Linked DNA regions of Homo sapiens: region 2 is linked to region 1. Evidence: fine-mapped expression QTL. Tissue or cell type: cerebellum. Region 1 holds a variant in brackets; the other region holds the start of a gene. All regions are shown on one strand. Distances are between the middles of the regions.

Region 1 (10,157 bases):
CCAGGCCCTGGAAAAATGACTTCCATCTACCGGCTGTGAGGAAGAGCTGGCTTCATTTTTGATCTGACTGCTCACAGCCTTTAAGCCTCTGCCCTCCCTCTGCCCCTTCTGTCCCACACCTGGGAGGGCTGCTAAGAAGGCTCAGGTGCTCCCTCCTTTGGCAGCAGTGGGAGAGTCAACACTGGCAAGGCCCTGACCACCTGCGTCCTGACCCCACCCCTAAAACTTAATAAAACCTGGTCTCTTCCTGGCTCATTCAGCCGTTTCACACTGCTTGAGAGGCCTGCCCTGTCTCCCAAGACTTCAAATAGGTAAGCAACAGACCGTTTCGATGTGTGCACATGTGAGGTATCATCAGTTTCCACATCTGAACTAAACCTGGGGTGGGGGTCCCTCTTGCCTTTCCAGAGTAGCCATACCACACTGGAGGGGGTAAATGAGTTGACCTATCCTCAACCACTTGTCTTTTAAAACTAAACACGTCGTGCAACACATGGTTAACAAAGTTCCATAGCTCACAGCTCTCCTTTTAAACAGCTCAGGCAGGCTGAGGTTTTTAAGTAAGAATGAAAGAGATGAGGTGCCTGTTTGTTTCATCATGCTGAAGTCAGTCTCCTGCAAATAAGACACAGTTTGGGTCATGTATTAGGTTAATGCTATCTTATCAAATATCCTGGCAGAAAATAAAAATGGTACCTTAAAAAGTTCTCCTGCCTCCAATCTAAGTGTTATGGGATTATACACTGGCCTAGAATCCCTTTATGCAATCTTGCTCCTCCTGCCCAATTAGCACAAGGTCATACTCAAGCCATGTCCTATTCAATAAATAAAGCAAGTTTTTAAAAATGCCACTCCCTTTATCTTCTCATATGTTGTTTTCCTCACCTAAAATACTCTTTCCTCAGCCACCTTCTAAATCCTACCACATTCCAGTTTCCCAGTGAACCGCCTTTGATGCCTCCAGCCCTCCCTGAGTCTCCTCTGCTCTGAACTCCTGCAGCCCTTGGAGCCATAGAATCCCACTCCACAACAGCACTCAGCATCTGCTTCCACATTTCATGACCTCACCAGGCAGCCTGAATCATTCTGAAATAGTTCTATGACAATTTCTGTGGAGCCCAGATCTTCCACGCTTTGGTTAGGGCCCAGGACTTTCCTCTGGAGGTAGCTAGAATAAGTGTAACCCTTCCGCCACAAGAATCAAATATCTGAAGGCCAAAAAACCCTAATTCATTCAGTCATTTCTCACATGACCAAACTCCCAGCTCCCTAATCATCTTGTTGTCTTCATTTATTTCGCAGTGGATTCCATATTTTTATTAATACAACATCAGGGTGCATTAGTGTTTACGTTGGCCACGTTGCTCTACTGCAGACCCATCCTGAACTTGCAGATAACTAAAATATCTAAGTCCTCTTTTCCCCTCATAGAGTGCTATTAAACCATTTTTCCCCTCATCAGGACTTCAAGAGCTGATTTTTACTTAAATGGGGGATTTTGCATTTATCTCCAGTAAATTTCATTTCACTGCTTTTATCTGTTCTTCCCATCTGCCAAGATCTTTAGACTTCAGATCCAGACATCTCACACATTAACTATCCCCACAGCTTTGCATCCATTGCCAAACACCATCTATTTTGGTGATGAGTATGCGTTTTCACATGAGTCCATCTTGCCTCTCCAACTGCACCTCAGGGAAATAGACTATGGGCTTTGGAGTCAGGCATTTAGAGTAAAATCCTTGCCCCACCCCTTAGCAAGTTACTACACTTCTCTGAACCTCAGTTTCTTTGTCTGTAAAATGGACACAGTAATACATGCCTCAGGTTGTTGTATTAAGTGAAACAATATGTATATAAGGCCAGTAGCAGAGTGTATAGCATTTAGTAACTGCTTAGTATTAATCATTATTATCCTAAGTTCTTTAAGGACCATGATGATATCATATACTTCCTCCTCAAATTTAAAAGATCGCTGAGCATAAAGTAGGTGTTCAATGAAGATTAATTTGTTGAAATATATTTGGCCTTTTGGGAAATAACACCAATCCCTTCAGGCATCTAGAGGAAGTCTTTGCAGTACTCACAGAAACATCCTTTTTCTGCTGTGCATCTTAATCGAAGAACTTATCAAACTCTAAAAAGAGGCTGGGTGTGGCTGGGCATGGTGGCTCATGCCTGTAATCCCAGCACTTTGGGAGGCCAAGGTGCGCAGATCACCTGAGGTCAGGAGTTTGAGACCAGCCTGGCCAACATGGTGAAACCCTGTCTCTACTAAAAATACAAAAAAAAGTAGCTGGGCATGGTAGCGGGTGCCTGTAATCCCAGCTACTCGGGAGCCTGAGGCAGAAGAATCACTTGAACCCAGGAGGCGGAGGTTGCAGTGAGCTGAGATCACGCCATTGCACTCCAGCCTGGGTGACAAGAGCGAAACTCCACCCCCCCACCCCCCAAAAAAAGAGGCCAGGCGTGATGGCTCATGCCTGTAATCCCAGCACTCTCCGAGGTTGAGGCAGGAGGATTGCTTGAGCCCAGGATTTCGAGACCAGCCTGAGCAACATGGTGAAACCCTGTCTCTACAAAAAATACAAAATTTAGCTGGGCAGTGGTGGCACGTGCCTGTGGTCCCAGCTACTCAGGAGACTGACATGGGAGAATCATTTGAGCCCAGGAGGTTGAGGCTGCAGTGAGCTGTGATGGTGTCACTCCAGCCTGGGTGACACAGCAAGGCCCTGTCTCAAATAATAATAAAAAAAGAACTCTAAAGAAACGGTACTGAGTGTGTTTATTGAGGGCCTGACCTGCAACGGCTGTGTAAGAGCGTTACCCAACATTTGAAACACTCTGTCTCCAGAAAGCAGATCAAACCGGTTATCTCAAACTGCATCCGCACACTTAACACATGCTCATTTGACTTTTGCCTGACATTCCACTTCTGCAATTCAGGGTCTTTTAGAAAGTTTTACGGGGGAAGCCAAATTCTGGAAGACGCTTCTGCCTCAGCTTCAATAAAAACAGCATAAAATGCCCTGTGAGGGTGAGGACTCCACAGGGAACTTCTAGCAGTGCAGCTGCTGTGGCCACCTCCCCCTCAACCTCCTCACCAGAACCTGCAAGGAAGTGACTGTATTCCTGCTCCCCATCTCAGAGCACAGCTTACAATACTGCCCCTTGTCCTAAGCGCTTAAGCATTATGCCAGGGTTAGTGATAAATGTTATCACATACTGAACAAACCAAAGCATATGTACACCTCTACTCCTCATAAACTCGCTCTGCAGAGCCAACCTGAAAGAATGAATTCAGCAATTCAGTTATTCTAGTAAAACCGCGATGTATTTTTTTCCCAACAGATGCTGTCAGAAAGACACCGGTTTGGCAACGTGACTGGCTTCTTGCCACTGCTGAGAAAGCTGACATCAAGATAAAACCGGCCTTCACTTCCCCATGCTGGACCTCTTTCCTAACAGACTGTGGCAAAAGGAAATGCTTAAACACTCCAGCAGCATCTTTAGAGGCTGGCTCTAAAAGCGGAGTTTGGATATTTACCAGAAACATGCAAACTGCTGTGGAAAAGGAACGGAAAGAGCTGCTGACCATCATTTCTAGATAAGAACTGTACACTTCTAGACAACACAAACCTTAACACACAACAGGCATGCATTACAAATTTAATGAACCACAAATTCAAATTCAGCTGGTGTTTAC[T/C]GAGTGCTAGGCAGGTATTTGAATCCCTCTGAGGCCAGGTGATGTTACAACGCTCCTAAGTGGCAGAGATGAAGTCTAAATTCTGACTCTGCACTGCCTTTTCCACTACATCACGATGGCCCTATGGAATTCAGTCTATTCAAGGAGGGCAGCAGAAGCGGTAAACGTCACCCACGCTTTGAATACCTGGGCAACAAGGTAACCAACCACACATGTCCCTGAGGTCATAGCCAGGCGGTAGGTTGGCAAGCAGTGTCTGTCTGTTTCACTTAGAGGAAAGGAGTCTGAAGCAAAACCATTTTAATCCTGTGCATTTTGTCATGTACAATAAAATACAGTAAAAGCAAAAAGAATCTATAAACTTACGGTATACTTTCTCCTTCCCACTTAATACCACTCTCTGTAATTATTTCTGAAAGGACATAATGCATTTCAGGATACAATTTATCTGAGAAGTGAAACATGAAACGACCACGCTGGACAGCAGCACACACAACAGAATGCTTCTTGATTCCTACTGAGACCAATTATCAGGGCAGCATATTTTCCTCTCAGTGTGTGGGGAGTCACACATGTTCATTTTCAAAAACAAAGAGGAGACTATGCCTGGAGACCACTGATGCCTTTCTTAAGGACGGGGGAATGCATACATGAAAAAGGATTCAAGCACATTCTGCCCCCACTAAAAACAACTGAAAATATAATGGGAACCTTTTGGCTAAGAAAAAAACAAAAACCAAAAAAAAAAACCATCCTCTGTGTTCAACCCTCAATCTAACTTTCTATCCAGAATTTATCCAGGTCACCAGATAAACTGACAACCACTGAGGTGTTATAACCAGAAATAAAAACTGTGCTGGTGGAAAGGAAACTACAATGAAGAAAGATGCTAAGCCAATAGTTACACTGTCTTGTAATGTCAGGGTTTGTGGAGCTGAGTACAACTTTCCTTTTGAGCAAAACATGAAACAAGCAGATTGTTTCTGGAGATTGGAAAAGATGAAGGGCCCTTTGAAGTGCAAATGGCAACGAAGCCTTTAATTAAAACTATCCCTTAATATTAAAACAACAAAAATTTGCCTATCGGATTGGCAAAATTTGAAAAGAATGCAAATACTCAGTGTGGCAAGAGTGTGTGGAAATGGGGCACCCTTGTATACTATACTGTTGGTGGGAATACAAATATTTTCAGTGTCTGAAAAGCAATTTAGAAAATCAATTATCAAAATAATTTCACACAAATATCAAATAGAATAGTATTTTATTATACATGAGGTTTATTCCTCATGTATCCATAACTCAGCTCAACAATTATCAATTCATGGCCAATCAACATCTTTTCTTTTAAGAGACAAAATGTCTGTCTGGAGTGCAGAGTGGCTTAATCAGCTCATGGCAGCCTCAACCTCCCAGGCTCAAGTGATCTTCCCACCTCAGCCTCCCGAGTAGCTGAGATTACAGACACGTGCCACCATGCCTGGCTAATTTTTTTAGTTTTTGTACATACAGGGGTCTTCACTATGTTGCCTAGGCTGGTCTTTAACTCCTGGGCTCAAGTGGTCCTCCTGTCTCGGGGATCCCAAAGTGCTGGGATTATAGATGTGATTCGCCGTGCCTGGCCAATTCATGGCCAATCTTATTTCAACTAATCTCCTACCTACTTCCTCCCTCATTGGGAGAAGCAAAACCAAGACATTATACATTTTCATCTGTAAATAGTTGAGTACAATGAAATGACTTTTAGATTGCATATCTTATACCTAAAATATTAAAATTAGTCTTTTTTTTTTTTGAGACAGAGTCTCACTCTTATCGCCCAAGCTGGAGTGCAATGGCACGATCTCAGCTCACTGCAACCTCCGCCTCCCAGGTTCAAGCGATTCTCCTGCCTCAGCCTCCTGAGTACTCAGCTAGGATTACAGGTGCCCACCACCATGCCCAACTAATTTTTGTATTTTTAGTTGAGATGGAGTTTCACTATGTTGGCCAGGCTGGTATCAAACTCCTGATCTCAGGTGATCCGCCCACCTTGGCTTCCCAAAGTGCTGGGATAACAGGCATGATCCACTGCACCCAGCCGTCATTTCTGTGTGTTTTGTGTTTTGTTTTGTTTTTACACGGAGTCTTGCTGTGTTGCCAGGCTGGAGTGCAGTGGTGTGATCTCGGCTCACTGCAACCTCCAACTCCCTGGTTCAAGCGATTCTCCTGCCTCAGCCTCCCGAGTAGCTGGGATTACAGGCATGCGCCACCACGCCCAGCTAATTTTTGTATTTTTAGTAGAGACAGGGTTTCACCATGTTGGCCAGGCTGGTCTCGAACTCCTGGCCTCAAGTGATCTGCCTGCCTCAGCCTCCCAAAGTGTTGGGATTACAGGTGCCTGGCCAGAAAACATGTTTTTTAAGAGAAAACATATTATAAGTCCATATTCATATTCCAATTCAAATTTAGAATTCTGGGTTTTTATTTCATTGGTTTGGTTTTTATATTTGTATGTTTTTCCACTTTTACAAAAAATTTGGTTCTTAACTTAAAATACAAATATCTTCTGTCTCTACCATTTGTCTTTGGGGTATTTATCCTAAGGAAATAATCTGATATGATGTCCATGACAGCATTCTTTATAGTAGCAAAAAAAAAAAAAAAAAAAGGAAATAATCTACATGTAAAATAATAAATGAAGTATATAATAGTATATCCTAATATATAAAAATATATATATTATATATATATAATCCATTGCTTGCTTGATGGAATCAATAAGTATTTACAGAAATGAGGTTGGTTTGGGTCAAGAATATACCTAAGTATTATAAAAAATTATTAAAATAAATAACAATTCTCATTTAAGTTCAAAGACCCCATTACATTGCCGTTCACTGCCAGTCATGAATGAATTTAACCCCAACTTATACAAAAAAGGCTCCTAACAAACTTCTCTATATTTCAGATGATATGAATATAACTAGGGTTCATTTTCTAAATTTTAAAATAGAAGCATACAAATCTTCTACCAAGAAATAAAAAAGCAGAAAGTGCTTCTTCTTTTAAATTTTAATTTAATTTATTTATTTTTTTTTTTTTTGAGATGGAGTCTTGCTCTATCACCCAGGCTGGAGTGCAGTGGCACAATCTTGGCTCACTGCAACCTCCACCTCCCAGGTTGAAGTGATTCTTGTGCCTCAGGCTCCCAAGTAACTGGGATTACAGGCACCCGCCACCATGCCTGGCTAAGTTTTTTGTATTTTTAGTAGAGACAGGGTTTCACCATGTTGGCCAGGCTGGTCTCGAACTCCTGACCTCAATTGATCCGCCCACCTCAGCCTCTGAAAGTGCTGGGATTACACGTGTGAGCCATCATGCCTGGCCAGAAAGTGCTTCTTAATGAGAATAATTTAATTATTAATCAGTCATGGCACTCAGTAATATAGACAAATTACAGTCACACTACCTGACATGAAAGTAAACCTATTTGGTTTTTGTTTATTTATTTTTGAGACAGGGCCTTACTCTGCCACCCAGGCTGGAGTGCAGTAGTGCAATCAAAGCTCACTGCAGCCTTGAACATCTGAGTTTAAGGGATCCTCCCACCTTAGCCTCCCAAGTAGCTGGAACCACAGGTGTGCACCACCACACCTGGCTAATTTTTAAATTTTTTGCAGAGATGGGGTCTCACTATATTGCCCAGTCTGGTCTCAAACGATTCTCCCACCTCAGCCTCCCAAAGTGCTGGGATTATAGGCATGAGCCTCTGTGCCCAGCTGCTTCCACACCTTCTTTATCACTTTCACATTCTTGCAGGAAATAAGGAGGAAGTCATCAAAGCCAAGTAGGATATATCAGAAATGAAGGTAATGGGAAAGAAATGTTTTAAAAGAAAACCAAGAAGAACTCAAATTTTTAGAAGCTGGCATGAGGAAAATTGGAACCAAATTTATATGTAATTTAAGCAAGAATTTTTTTTCAGTATTTAAAAATAGAGCAAGTACAAAAGCTATATCAATTTCCAAAAAAAGAGACACTTTTAAACCTCATGATTATTCTTTGGTACTTGAACAAATACCCTGTTTATATGCTTATTTTAAAAAATTTCTCTGACAAATCACTTTCTATTATCAGATTATTCCAGTATATACTTATTGAAATATGTTAATATTATGTTGCATTTTGCTTTGTTTTCATTAAAGGAGCTGGAGAACATTCTTAGTACATGAGAAACAAACATCCAGAGATGGTGCAGTGCAAAGGGATGGGGCATTCCAGGCGCAGTGGCATTCACAGTGTTATCCCCAAACAAGAAAAAGGCAGTTCGTTACCTGCTGAGCTGTAGCATCCTGTTGGACATAAGCTACCTGGCCGGGGTCTGTAAACAGAGTCTAAACAAACAAACGAACAAAAAATTATCAGTAGCTCTTTGGATAGCCTGCCTACACAGAAAAATTATCCTACTGCTAAGCACCAATTTTTAGAAAAGTTAACTCCCATTTTAGCCAGTAATAAGCTTTCATTAATACAGAAAATAAAGATAGTAATCTTAAATTTAGCTAAAGCTTTTCATTCACATGGCTCCAAAGAGATTGTATAAGCTAACCATCCCAATGGCTAACATACTTCGCAATTTTACTCGTAAGCAAAGCCTTTCTTGGGACTGAATGTCACAGTTAATTAAAAAGGCATCTCATGAAAACACAAGAGACATGACATGAACAAGGGTTCACAGGTTCACACATAACACTGCTCACGGGAGTAGACTTGTGATGAAATGAAAATGGATGGAGATAGACAGGCATCTAGAAGAGGATTACATACCCAAGGATTACAGCTATTTCAAATGTAAGTGCATGTTTATTATCAGAAGAGAAGTAGAAGGAAAATAAATTGAACTTAATGTTCCATGAGTTCTTTTCTACATAGTCAGTAAAGTCATAATTAAAAAAAAAAATTAATCATCATAAACTAAGTTGGCTCATGATGCAGCAAAGCTAACTAGAGAAAATTCTTCGAAACTACTGTAGCCAGGGCACCACAGTTAATATCTCTAATCCAGAAAAATGTCAAAATGTCCTTTCTTCTAAAGTTTTTAAAAATCTGGCTGGGCGCGGTGACTCACGCCTGTAATCCCAGCACTTTGGGAGGCCAAGGCAGGCGGATCACCTGAGGTCAGGAGATCGAGACCTGGCCAACATGGCAAAACACCATCTCTACTAAAAATACGAAAATTAGCTTGTTGTGGTGGTGGGTGCCTGTAATCCCAGTTGCTTGGGAGGCTGAGACAGGAGAATCACTTGAACCCGGGAGGTAGAGGTTGCAGTGAGCTGAGATTGTGCCACTGCATTCCAGCCTAGGAGACAGAGCAAGACTCTGTCTCAAAAAAAATAAAAAATAAGTAAACAAAATAAAAATTATCCAAATTCAGACATTTAGTAACATTGTAATAAACTGAAAGTTGGTCACAGGACATTCTTATATAAACTAATCTTATTTTAATATAGGCAGGGGTATTCCAAAAGTACCACTAAGTCTTCAGTGATTTCATACTTATGTAGATTTGAAAGGCACTAATTAGGCGGGCCTCATTTCTATTTGGGAGTGATCTGAGCCTCTTTATTGAATATCAAATGAGGGCAAATTTTTCTTACCAAGATGCTACTATAAAAGTATGGAATTTAGATGTTAAAGATATACATTTCAAAGTACTTTATACATTGTAAAGTGCTAACAATGTAAATTAACATTTATATGTTGGGGGATATTGGTGTCACTCATTTGGAAGCTATACTGCAAGTCACTGGCAAAAAATAAAATAAAAGCAGCTATAATTGTACGCCTTTTGGCAGTAAACATCTTTGCTTCTAGTACAGCCTTGCAAATCAGTAAGTTATTAAGAAGTGGTAGCTAATAAGCTTAGCAGGACCCTTTCTTACATATTTAGCTGAAATAATCTGTATGTTTTCACAGAGCCATTTTTGGCCTGGTTCTTGATACTTAGGAATAATAAATTCATAACCTAGTCAACTGTAGAGAAGAGCTATATACGAACCCATGCTCTAACTCCTTATTGCATTTAGCGTCAAGAAATAAATCACATCTTCCTCTGCCAAGTTGGTTACAAGCTCCTTGAGAGCACAGATCTTTTTTTTTGAGACAGAGTTTTGCTCTGTCACCCAGGCTGGAGTGCAGTGGCGCGATCTCGGCTCACTGCAACCTCCGCCTCCCAGGTTCAAGCAATTCTCTGCCTCAGCCTCCCACGTAGCTGGGATTACAGGTGCCCACCACCACGCCCAGCTACTTTTTTGTATTTTTAGTAGAGACAGGGTTTCACCCTCTTGGCCAGGCTGGTCTTGAACTCCTGACCTCATGATCCACCTGCCTCGGCCTCCCAAAGTGCTGGGATTACAGGCATGAGCCACCGCGCCTGGCTGAGAGCACAGATCTTATCTGAATACGTACTGCA
Region 2 (10,157 bases), 51 kb after region 1:
TATTATTTTTTTCTACTAAATCTCAAAATCTGAGTGTATGTATTTCACACTTCACAGCACTGGCCATATTTCAAGTGCTCAAAACCACAGGTGGCTACTAGACAGGACAGCACAGGTCTAAGGGATCTGATTTCTAGAAATCACAGCAGGAAAGAAGCTGTGGAGTACAACTTTACCATCAGTGAAAGTGAAGGACATGGGTTAAAAAAAAAGGGGGGGAGGAGGAGGAGCATTTGACTCCAATATTCTCCTGTTTGCAATAAACGAGAGTTTAACTAAAAAATGAATAGCAAACTACAGCCTATGTTAGCAGACAGTAACCTTTTAGCAATCCATATAAGGTTCTAAACTATTGTGCACTATTGATTTTATAATTGTTTTCACCACATTTTAACTAGTCTTGCTGTAACTATACTTAGGGTTACCCATACCTTCCCTCTTTCCACTCCACTTCCTCACCCGCTCCCCATTCCCTAAACTATTTCAAGTTACAGAAGAAGAATCTACCTTCAGGTGCTTTCTACAACACAAATTTAAAATCTACACAAGGATGGTCAATGGAAAGGCACAGAAAAATTTTGGAAGGTGGACAGAAATGGCCAGAGTGCTCCACACAAGTCTTGAAATGGTGAAATGGTGTAATAACTTTTTTTTTTTTTTTTTTTGGAGACAGGGTCTCACTCTGGTTGCCCAGGCTGGAGTGCAGTGGCGTGATCTCGGCTCACTGCAGCCGCTACTTCCGGGGCTCAGGTGATTCTCCCACCTCATCCTCCTGAGTAGCTGAGACTACAGCTGTGGGCCACCACACCTGGCTAACTTTTTTGTTTTTAGTAGAGGCAGAGTTTTGCTATGTTGGCCAGACTGTTCTCGAACTCCTGGACTCAAGCAATCTGCCTGCCTTGGCCTCCCAGAGTACTGGGATTACAGGTGTGAGCCACCACACCCGGCTGTGTTATAACATTAAGAATAAAAAAGAAAAGAGGCCAGATATTCCTAAGCAGTGATTCAACTAAACCACGTGAACAGTTTAATGCTAGAACAGCGAAGAGATAAGTGTCACCAATGAGGGCCAAAATAAGTCACGAAAAGTTCCCCTCTCACCCTCCTGCCTCTACCTATCCCCCAGGAGAATTTGAGTGGGATCATTCTCCAAAGATTTGGTTGTAGCAAACATTTCTTTTTGGCTCTTTCTAGACACCAGATCGAATTCTCCTTCATTAATCTATTAAAGTACCTATAATAAGTTAAAATGGTAGACAATAAATTCTGCTTGTGAAAAACAAATTGCTGGACTGGGTGTGGCTACACTATCTGGGGTGGGATGTGATGGGAGAAGACTATGTATTTTAGTGGCAATAGGTCAAAGTACATCAGTGTTCAAGTTTAAAACAAACTGAACAACTCAAACACTGCAACAACAGGATGTTTAACAGTTTCTTTTTACCAGATATAATTACGCGGTTACGAGGTGTTTACCAGTGCTTAAAATGAAAAATTGAGGAAACCAAAATTATAGCTCAGTACTTCTCAGCCCTTTGATGAATTATGTTTGTTATCCAGAAGCCTATCCCTATCAATTAGATTACGCTTTTAAAAAGTTACAAGAAATCAAAATATTATAATTCTTTTAGTTCGGCGGACTTCATGATGCCCCCTTCAAATAATGGAAGTAATGAAAGTGCCCAATCATCAGCAAAGTCTTTAGACACCTATTTACGTCTTGTTTTAAAAACTAGATATTAAACCAAGATTATGTCGTTTGTACAAATATTTTATACACACACAAAACCAACTTGAAATACACCAAAGTATCAGCAAAGATTATCTCTGGGTAATTATGGGTTTTGTTTTTTTTCACTCGCTTCTAAATTTTTTTTTTTTTTTTTTGAGACGGAGTTTCGCTCTTGTTGCCCAGGCTGGAGTGCAATGGCCCGATCTCAGCTCACTGTAAACTCTGCCTCCCGGGTTCAAGTGATTCTCCTGCCTCAGCCTCCCGAGTAGTTGGGATTACAGGCGCCTGCCATCATGTCCGTCCAATTTTTGTATTTTTAGTAGAGACAGGCTTTCACCATGTTGGCCAGGCTAGTCTCGAACTCCTGACCTCAGGTGATCTGCCCGCCTCGCCTCCCAAAGTGCTGGGATTACAGGCATGAGCCACAGCGCCCGGCTTAAATTTTATGTTTTCTCCAATGATCACGCATTATTCTTAAAACTAGAAGGAAAAACAAAACAGGCAAGCAGAAACTTAGGTAGTGCCAATCAATTTGGGATTATATTGAGTTGTGCTATCCTTTATACCTCCATAACCTCTAAGTAAAAACCATTCAGAGCCCTTGAAGACAGGAACCTTGCTTTTTCTAAAATATATACTCAATTACATTGACATACAATATATGATTAATATGTGGTGGAGCATGCTACAAAATATTAGAAAAACTAAAAATGAATTCTTTGAAAAAGCAAAACAATTTTGCCTTGCAAAACGAGGAACAGCATAGCAGAGTGGGAGCTTACGGGGTAGAAGGCACAAGACATTTGTCTTGATCCAAAACAAACAAAAATGTAATCCTTTCACTAAACGTCCCTGTTCACTTTAAAATGGTTCATTCTGTGTCAACTTCACCTCAATTTATTGTAAAAGTAAACCTAAAGGCCGAGCGCGGGGGCCCATGCCTGCAATCCCAGCACTTAGGGATGCTGCGGCGGTAGGATTGCTTGAGCTCAGCAGTTCGTAACCATCCTGGGCAAAATGATGAAACCCCGTTTCTACAAAAAGTAGAAAAATTAGCCAGGCGTGGTGGTGCACGCCTGTAGTCCCAGCTACTAGGGAGGCTGAAGCAGGAGGATCCCTTGAGCCCGGGAGGTCGAGTCGGCAGTGAGCCAAGATCGCGCCACTGCACTCTAGCCTGGGCAACCAGAGACCCTGTCTCCTAAATAAACCTAGCAAAGTTCCTTTCTAAATACCCCATATTGAATAAACACTGTTTAAACGCTGCTTTGCCCCCAACCAATCCTAATTTTAAAAAAAAATCTTGTTTTCTCTATTCTAGAACAACAAATAAGTACTGCTCATCAAAGTGGAAGCTATTGTGATGCTGGAATGGTAGGAAGATACAAAAAAAATACAATGTAATAATACACCTTCTTGCCTTACAGCGATGGAGGAGTGATAGAAACAAAGAGAACAGGTCAGAAAAAGAGGCCACAAAACAGTCATGAGTGATTCTGCTGTTTTTAATAAAGGTTAAGTACTGCTAAGTTTAGAGAATTTGGGGTGACGAGACAGGCAAGGTTTCAACAGGCAAAGCAGCAGAATTAGGGCACAGGGCAGAGCTGGGTGGGTCTCATCACACATCTAATCCTCGATGACAGCACAAAGCCACCTCTCCTTGTGCTTAAGTGTACACGCACATTGATTGAAAATGCACTAAAATCCAACTCATCCACCAAGCAAGGCTAAAGGCGCGCACACAAATTCAACAGCGCTGCGTTCGCGTGGCTGGAGGGCAGACGGGGAATATTCCATTTTACTTAGTAGAGTATCAACACCTAGCTGCAGGGTTAAACCTGCTTAACAAAAGCTGGCGAGGGGCTGGAGAGGTGCACACCATCAGCCCTCTCCCGAGCGCCGACCGGCCTCGCCCTGCCTCTGCGCTGCACCCTGGGTGCAGGCGGACTGGGGCAGGGCCGCGACCCCGGCCTCGGCCTCCGCCTCCGCCCGGCCAGCCCCGACGCGGTGCCACGGGACAGACCCGCAGGGGCCACCCCACACCCCTGCGGGCCGGCCCCCCGCCCCGGTCCCGGACGCTAGCTTGGGAAGGCAGGCCGGGGGCCCAGCCATCGATGGCAAGTGGGCGGCGCGGCCTCCGCAGACAAAGCTGGGCGCCCCATCGAACAGGACCCTCCGCCCCACGCGCCCGCAACCGGCCAGCCCCGGAGCCCTGCCCGCACTGCCACCCCCAGCCCGGCGCCCGGCCCCCAGCCCCCGGTGCTCGGCTCCCGGCCGGCGGAGACCTGCCCGCCGCGCCCGGAGCGCCCGCGCAACCGCCGCCGCCGGAGCGCGCAGGCCGCCCAACCGCCGTCCCGGCCCAACCAACGCGGGCAGGGGAGGAGAGGTGCGCGCGGCCGGCGGAGCGTGCGAGCCACTCGGGGGTCGCAGGGGGAGGCTGCGCGCGGCGAAGGCAGGGGCGACGAGACGCCGAGGCCGGCGCTGAACGCGGCGCCAGGAGGGCCTGCTGGAGGGGGCCTTGCCCTCTTCCCCTTGGAAGGTGCAGATGGTTTGACCCCCCACCCCGAGTGAGGTGCCTCGTCCCAGCCCCGGCTGGACTGTACCATCGGGCGGTGCCGCCGGGATTTCTCCCCCCCACCACCACCATCAATTCCCCCCCCACCCGGGTCCGCGGTCGGTTGGCCCCGGCCGGGCTCTGAGACGCGGAAAGAGCTGGGCGCCATTTTGGGTGGGACTAAGCAAAGACGAAACACCCTCCCAGTCTATGGGGTAGTCTGGACCCTGGCTTATCTGGTTCCCTTAATCCTTTAGGTACTTACACGACGTTGGGTGAGGGGAGCTGGAAGATCAGCGGGTCCCCGATCCTCTCTCCCTAGGGGTGATAGAAATCAACCCCCCCCGCCACCTCCAGGTGGTTCTTCCCGCCGCAGAGTGGGAGCAGCATAAAAGGCGGGGTCTTATTAGCATAATCTGCCTGGCAACCTGATCTCGACGTTATATGATTGGTTAAACTCTGTAAGCCCCATGCCGTGCCTAGAGACGAGAAACGCTGGGGCGAACTGACAGGCCCAGATTTAGGAGTCATGACGAAGATCCTGAGACGCTTATTCAGTCTGCAGAGAAGCCAAAAGGAGATTCACATAATGGCCCAATGACTGAAGGCCTCTTTATTTCGTGCTCTGCTGTTCGTGTAAAACCCAATCGCAGAGCGGGTCTCAGGCGGCGCTCGCCTGCGTTTCTACTCTCAGCCAATCAGAAAACCCGACTCTTCGCATTGGGGTCAAGCCCCCGCTGCGGCCCGCGTGCTAACGGGGAGGAAGCTTCCAGCTGTGCCTGGGTGTCTCGGGCGCCGAGGGCAGCCTGCGCCCGTGCTAAGCCCGCCTCCCGCGCGCCCGAGGGCCCGGTGTCCCGGAAGACGCGCGGGGGTGAGGCGGCCCTCGCGTCCGCCCGCCCCGCCACAGATTGCCTCCGAAGTGGCCTGGCCGTGGAGCGCCGGCGAAAACCGAACTCCCGCCCGGCTCCCGGAGTCGGGAGCCTGCCGGGGTCTCGCCCTCAGGACCCCCAGGGAGCGGCCGGGCGCCGCCTATCACCCTGACCCACCGCACCTTGAGAGCGCTTTCACTGCGCCTCTTTTTTCTCCTCTACCAATCTGGAAAGGAAGTGAGTGTCATTTCAGACATTGAGAAACATTATTCAACACTGGTTACCCAGTGACTCAGCTCACTCCTTAACCGCAGGCTTCCACATCCTGCTGTCCCTTAAAATTGCCTTCACAAAGGGCAGCCAAGAGCCCAGCTTTGGAGAGATACCCAGCTCCAACTACCCACTGGCAGGCAATACGCAGGGCAGCTAGATGGCAGAGAGACCTTGGACCTTCGGACCTTCGGGGAGCGGTTTTCCCTTCGGTGATATCTACCTTGCTATGTTCGTGATATCTACCTTGCTACGTTATTTTGAAGATTAAGTGAGCTCTTACTTTACCGAGTAAAGTGCTTTGCTTAGCACACTGTCTGGAACTTAAATGAGAAGTACTGACAATATAACTTACAAAAATCCTAAACTATTGCCTGAGAAAAAGAGGGAGACAGGACAGCTAAGCAAAAGACGAGAATAGAAAACACCCACAGCGTGAAAAACTGTAAAATTAACTCAATAGTATTCTCTTTACTGTTTTTTGTTTTGTTTTGTTGTTTTGTTTTTTGATACGGAGTCTCGCTCTGTTGCCCAGGCTGGAGTGCAGTGGTGAGATCTGGGCTCATTGCAACCTCTGCCTCCCGGGTTCAAGCGATTCTCCTGCCTCAGCCTCTCTAGTAGCTGAGATTACAGGCATGCACCACCACGCCCGGCTAATTTTTGTATTTTCAGTAGAGATGGGGTTTCCCCATGTTGGCCAGGCTGGTCTCAAACTCTAACGTCAAGTGATTCTCCCGCCTTGGCCTTCCAAATTGCTGGGATTACAGATGTGAGCCACTGCGTCTAGTCTACCATTTTGTTTCTTTAAATAGCTGGAAACAACGTGGAAAGAAAAGAGAGCTTTTTTTTTTTTTTAAACTTCGTGACAGGGTGCGGTGGCTCACGCCTGTAATCCCAGAATTTTGGGAGGCCGAGGCGGGTGGATCGCTTGAGCACAGGCGTTCGAGACCAGCCTGGGCAACATAGTGAGACTCTGTACAAAAAACAAAAAGATTAGCCAGGCATGGCAGTACACATCTGTGGTTCCAGTTACCGGCAGGCTGTGCAGGAGGGTTACTTGAGCCCAGGAAGTCAAGGCTGCAGTGAGCTGTGATCGTGCCACTGCACTACAACCTGGGTGATAGAGCAAGTCTCTGTCTTTAAAAAAACAAAACAACAACAAGAAGAAACTTCAGACAGTTAACTGCTTTGTAAACAACTTCACATCTAGGCCGTGTCTTGTTCTTCCTTAAACCACTGTACAGGTGGCACTGGACTTAGATGAGGCCGACCTTAACATAGCTAGTGAGAGACACTAGTAGCCCTACTCTGGCAACACAGACATGGAAATCAGTTGCCTAAGGAAAGATCATATTGGCTAAGAGAGTCCCTTGAATGCTCCCTTTTAGTGTTACGAGTAGATGAACAATGCCGCAGGTTGGACAGGTCCTTCTGTGTCCTTGCAAAAGCTGCCACTCCACATACCCCTGGCCTCAGTAAGAACGGCTCACTTTTAGATTTAACATCATTACATCCTTGCTGATGAACTGAGATGGTCCCAACTGAGGTCCACTGACCAGAAACAACACCACAGAACCCAAAAGAGAACGCACCATGGGGAATGGGGCTATTCAAACTGAAGAGCCTGAGTTACTCTCATGGCTTTAGAGAAATGTTCTAAAACTTCTAAGTACATAAATATGTGCAGGGAGATTCCTCCCCACAGAGTTTTTATTCAGAGGGTCTGGAGTGAACCTCAGGAATTTGCTTTTTATGTGGATTTTTAAATGATTTTTAAAGTTTACACTGTAAAATTCACTCACTGGGGTATACAAGAAGTATTTATTGAATATGTACTGTGTGCCATTCATTTTTCTAAACAATAAAGATAGAATAGGGAACAACAGCAACCAAAAAAGGCCCTGCTGTCATGCAGCTTTATTCTAGTGTAGGTAACAAGAAGAAAAGAAATAACTCCAGGTCATGATAAGTGCTACAAAGTAAACCAGGAAAATGCAAAGGCAGAGAACGCTGGCAGTTTAAATAGGGTGCCAAAGAAGTTTTCTCTAAGATACTAACATTTGAGCTGAGCCTTGAGTTATGGGGGAAAAAAAAAAGCCAGCCATGTTAAGATCTTGGAGAACATTCCAATCTAAGAGAATGGCAAAAGTAAAGACCATGAGGTGAACAACAAAAAAATTAGTATGGCGTGCACATATTCATTCTTCTATTGAATAGATATTCATTGAATGCTTCCCAAATGCCAGGCACTGTCTTAGATGCTCTGTGATTCGTCAATTAACACTATAGACAAAAGGAAAAACAACACAAAAATCCATGCCTTGACTGAGCTTTCAGTCTAACACACTTGAGAAACAGTAAGAAGGCCAGAATTATTGGAACACAGGACAGAGTGATACAAGAAAGAGTGTAGTGATACAAGGATACAGTGATACAAGAAAACTTGGGGAAATAGGTCTGGGACAGACCACATAAGGCTTTGAAGGCTATGGTATTGGAATTATTATAGAAAGTGCAACTTAATAGGAGCATTGACTAAGTGTGGTAATTAAAAAAAAAGAAAGAAAAAAGTGCAACTTAAACTAGTTGGAGGTTTTAAGTAAGGTAGTAACACAGTTTTGTCTTTCAAAATAACTGGCTGCTCTAGGGTGCTTATTTTGTTTGGGGAGAGGGCAAGAGACAAGGAGTCTGTGCCAATATGCTCTGAATAAGAAACGATGGCCCATCTTGACTGAAATAGAAGTAGCTTAAATGGGGAGAAGTGTATGGACACCAGATATATTTTGGAGGTGAAGCCACAGAACTTGCAAATGAATAAGTTATGGAACAGAGTGTAAGTTGCTCCTGGTGACAAGGGAGTGATCGAGAATGACTTCTAAGGTTGAAAACTGAGTGGCCAATGAATGTTGATGCCTTAACTGAGATTAGGAACACTGGGAGATAAATGGTTAGAAAATCAAGAGTTGTATTGTAGCCATGTTGAATTGGAAATATCTTTTGGAAAATCCAACTAGACACCCCACGTAGGCAGCTGGAATCCAAAAGAGAGATCAGGGCTGGAAATACAATTATAGGAATACAGTTCATCAGATTATACATTATATCTAAATACATAGAATTAGGTGTGGTCATCTAATTAGGATTAGATGAGAGAGAGTGTGTATATAGAGAAGACAAGTGTATCCAGGACTGAGCTCATGGGAGCTGCTGAATTTAGAGGTGGATGATAGGAAGGCAGCCATCCAAAAGGCTGAGAAGGAAATAACACAGGAGGAGAACCTGGAGAGGATGGTGTCTGAGAAGCCAAGGGAAGACAGTGTTTCAAGAAGGATGTAGTGGCCAGCTGCAGCAAATATTGCTAAAAGCTGATGATAATGACAGTTAACCTGTGGATCTGGAAAGACAGAGGTGGAAATTGCTGGTAACTTTGACAATAGTAGCTTCAAGGGAGAGCTAGGAAGTTTACTGGGAGTCACCTGAAGAAAGCATAGGAGGTGAAGAGTCACATCTGTTGCCAACATATGGCAGATAAGATAGGCCAACGAAAACAACTAATGTGCTGCAGTGAGCTATGATCACACCACTGCACTGAAGCCCAGATGACAAAGCGAGACCCCGTCTCAAAAAGAAAAAAAAAAGTATGTCATGAAAAGCAAAGAAAGCCTGAAAAACTGTTCCAGATTAAAGGAGAATAAAAAGACAGAACTAGGCCAGGCATGGTGGCTCATGCCTGTAATCCCAGCACTTTGGGAGGCCAAGGCAGATGGATCACCTGAGGTCAGGAGTTCGAGACCAGCCTGGCCAAGATGTCTCTACTAAAAATACCAAAAAATTAGCCAGGTGTGGTGGTGTGCACCTGTAGTCCCAGCTACTTAGGAGGCCAAGGCAGGAGAATCACTTGAACCTGGGAAGCAGAGGTTGCAGTGAGCCAAGGTCGCGCCACTGCACTCCAGCCTCGGTGACAGAGTGAGACTCCCTCTCAAAAAAAAAAAAAAAAAAAATAGGGCCTTTGCAGATATAATTAATTAAGATGAGCTTATACTGGATAAAGTAGGCCCTAAAAACCTATAACTAGTGTTCTTTTAAGACGAGAAAACAAAGACATAGATCCACAGGGGAGGGAATAGGAAGGCTAAAAACAGCAACAGAGAGTGACGTGTCCACCAGCCAAGGAATGCTGAAGGTTGCTGGCAACCTCCAGAAGCTGGAAGGAGATAGGAAGGGTTCTTTCCTAGAGGCTTCAGAGGGAACAGGGCGGGCACCTTGATTTCAGACCTCTAGCCTCCAGAGCCAAGAGAGAATACATCTCTAAGGTTTTAAGCTACCTGTTTGTGATACTTTGTTATGACAACCATGGGAAACTAATTTAACATTATTAAGTAAGAAATTATGTGGTACAAGATTGTTTGGGGTTGTCGGGGAGAAGGAGAGAGTGAGGAATTATCTGAATGTGGATAGCTGGGATGATGAGTATTTATAAGATAGCAACAGTTTTGGGTGTTTTTGTTTTTAAGATTTGAATGAAAAACTAGCTGGGGCCAGGTGGCACAGTGACTCACACCTGTTAATCCCAGCACTTTGGGAGGCCGAAGTGGATCACTTGAGTGAGGAGTTTGAGAGCAGCCTGGGCAATATGGTGAAACCCTGTCTCTATTTAAAAAGAAAAAAAGAAAGAAAGAAAAGAAAAGAAAGAGAGAGAGAGAAAAAAGTAGCCTGGCGTGGTGGCGCATGCCTG

Alleles and levels. Positions count from the first base shown, and alleles are read on the strand shown. Sizes are in standard deviations (SD) of each study's normalised expression.
For the expression in cerebellum of the gene that starts at base 4,662 in region 2, T is the low allele of the variant in region 1 and C is the other (large effect, 2.1 SD a copy in GTEx).

Evidence for each region. PIP is the estimated chance that this variant, and not a neighbour inherited with it, causes the effect.
Region 2: PRDM10 starts here. The variant in region 1 is fine-mapped to the expression of PRDM10 in cerebellum (GTEx, PIP above 0.99). The same link has a PIP of 0.9 or more in cerebellar hemisphere.

What each region holds. Positions count from the first base shown.
Region 1 is chr11:129,947,493-129,957,649 of GRCh38, forward strand. It overlaps PRDM10 (PR/SET domain 10), which reads right to left. Exons shown (of 21, transcript NM_199437.2): 4 at 8,020-8,079. Among named protein-coding and RNA genes, the nearest start is that of PRDM10-DT, 50 kb to the right of the region's middle. The variant T/C (reference allele first, on the strand shown) is at 3,707.
Region 2 is chr11:129,998,174-130,008,330 of GRCh38, forward strand. It overlaps PRDM10 (PR/SET domain 10), which reads right to left and starts at 4,662. Exons shown (of 21, transcript NM_199437.2): 1 at 4,549-4,662. PRDM10-DT (PRDM10 divergent transcript) reads left to right here and starts at 4,451. Exons shown (of 1, transcript NR_024233.1): 1 at 4,451-7,313. RefSeq lists silencers at 3,696-3,875, 3,906-3,955, 3,966-4,285, 4,996-5,385, an enhancer at 4,796-4,885 and a cis regulatory region at 8,718-9,064.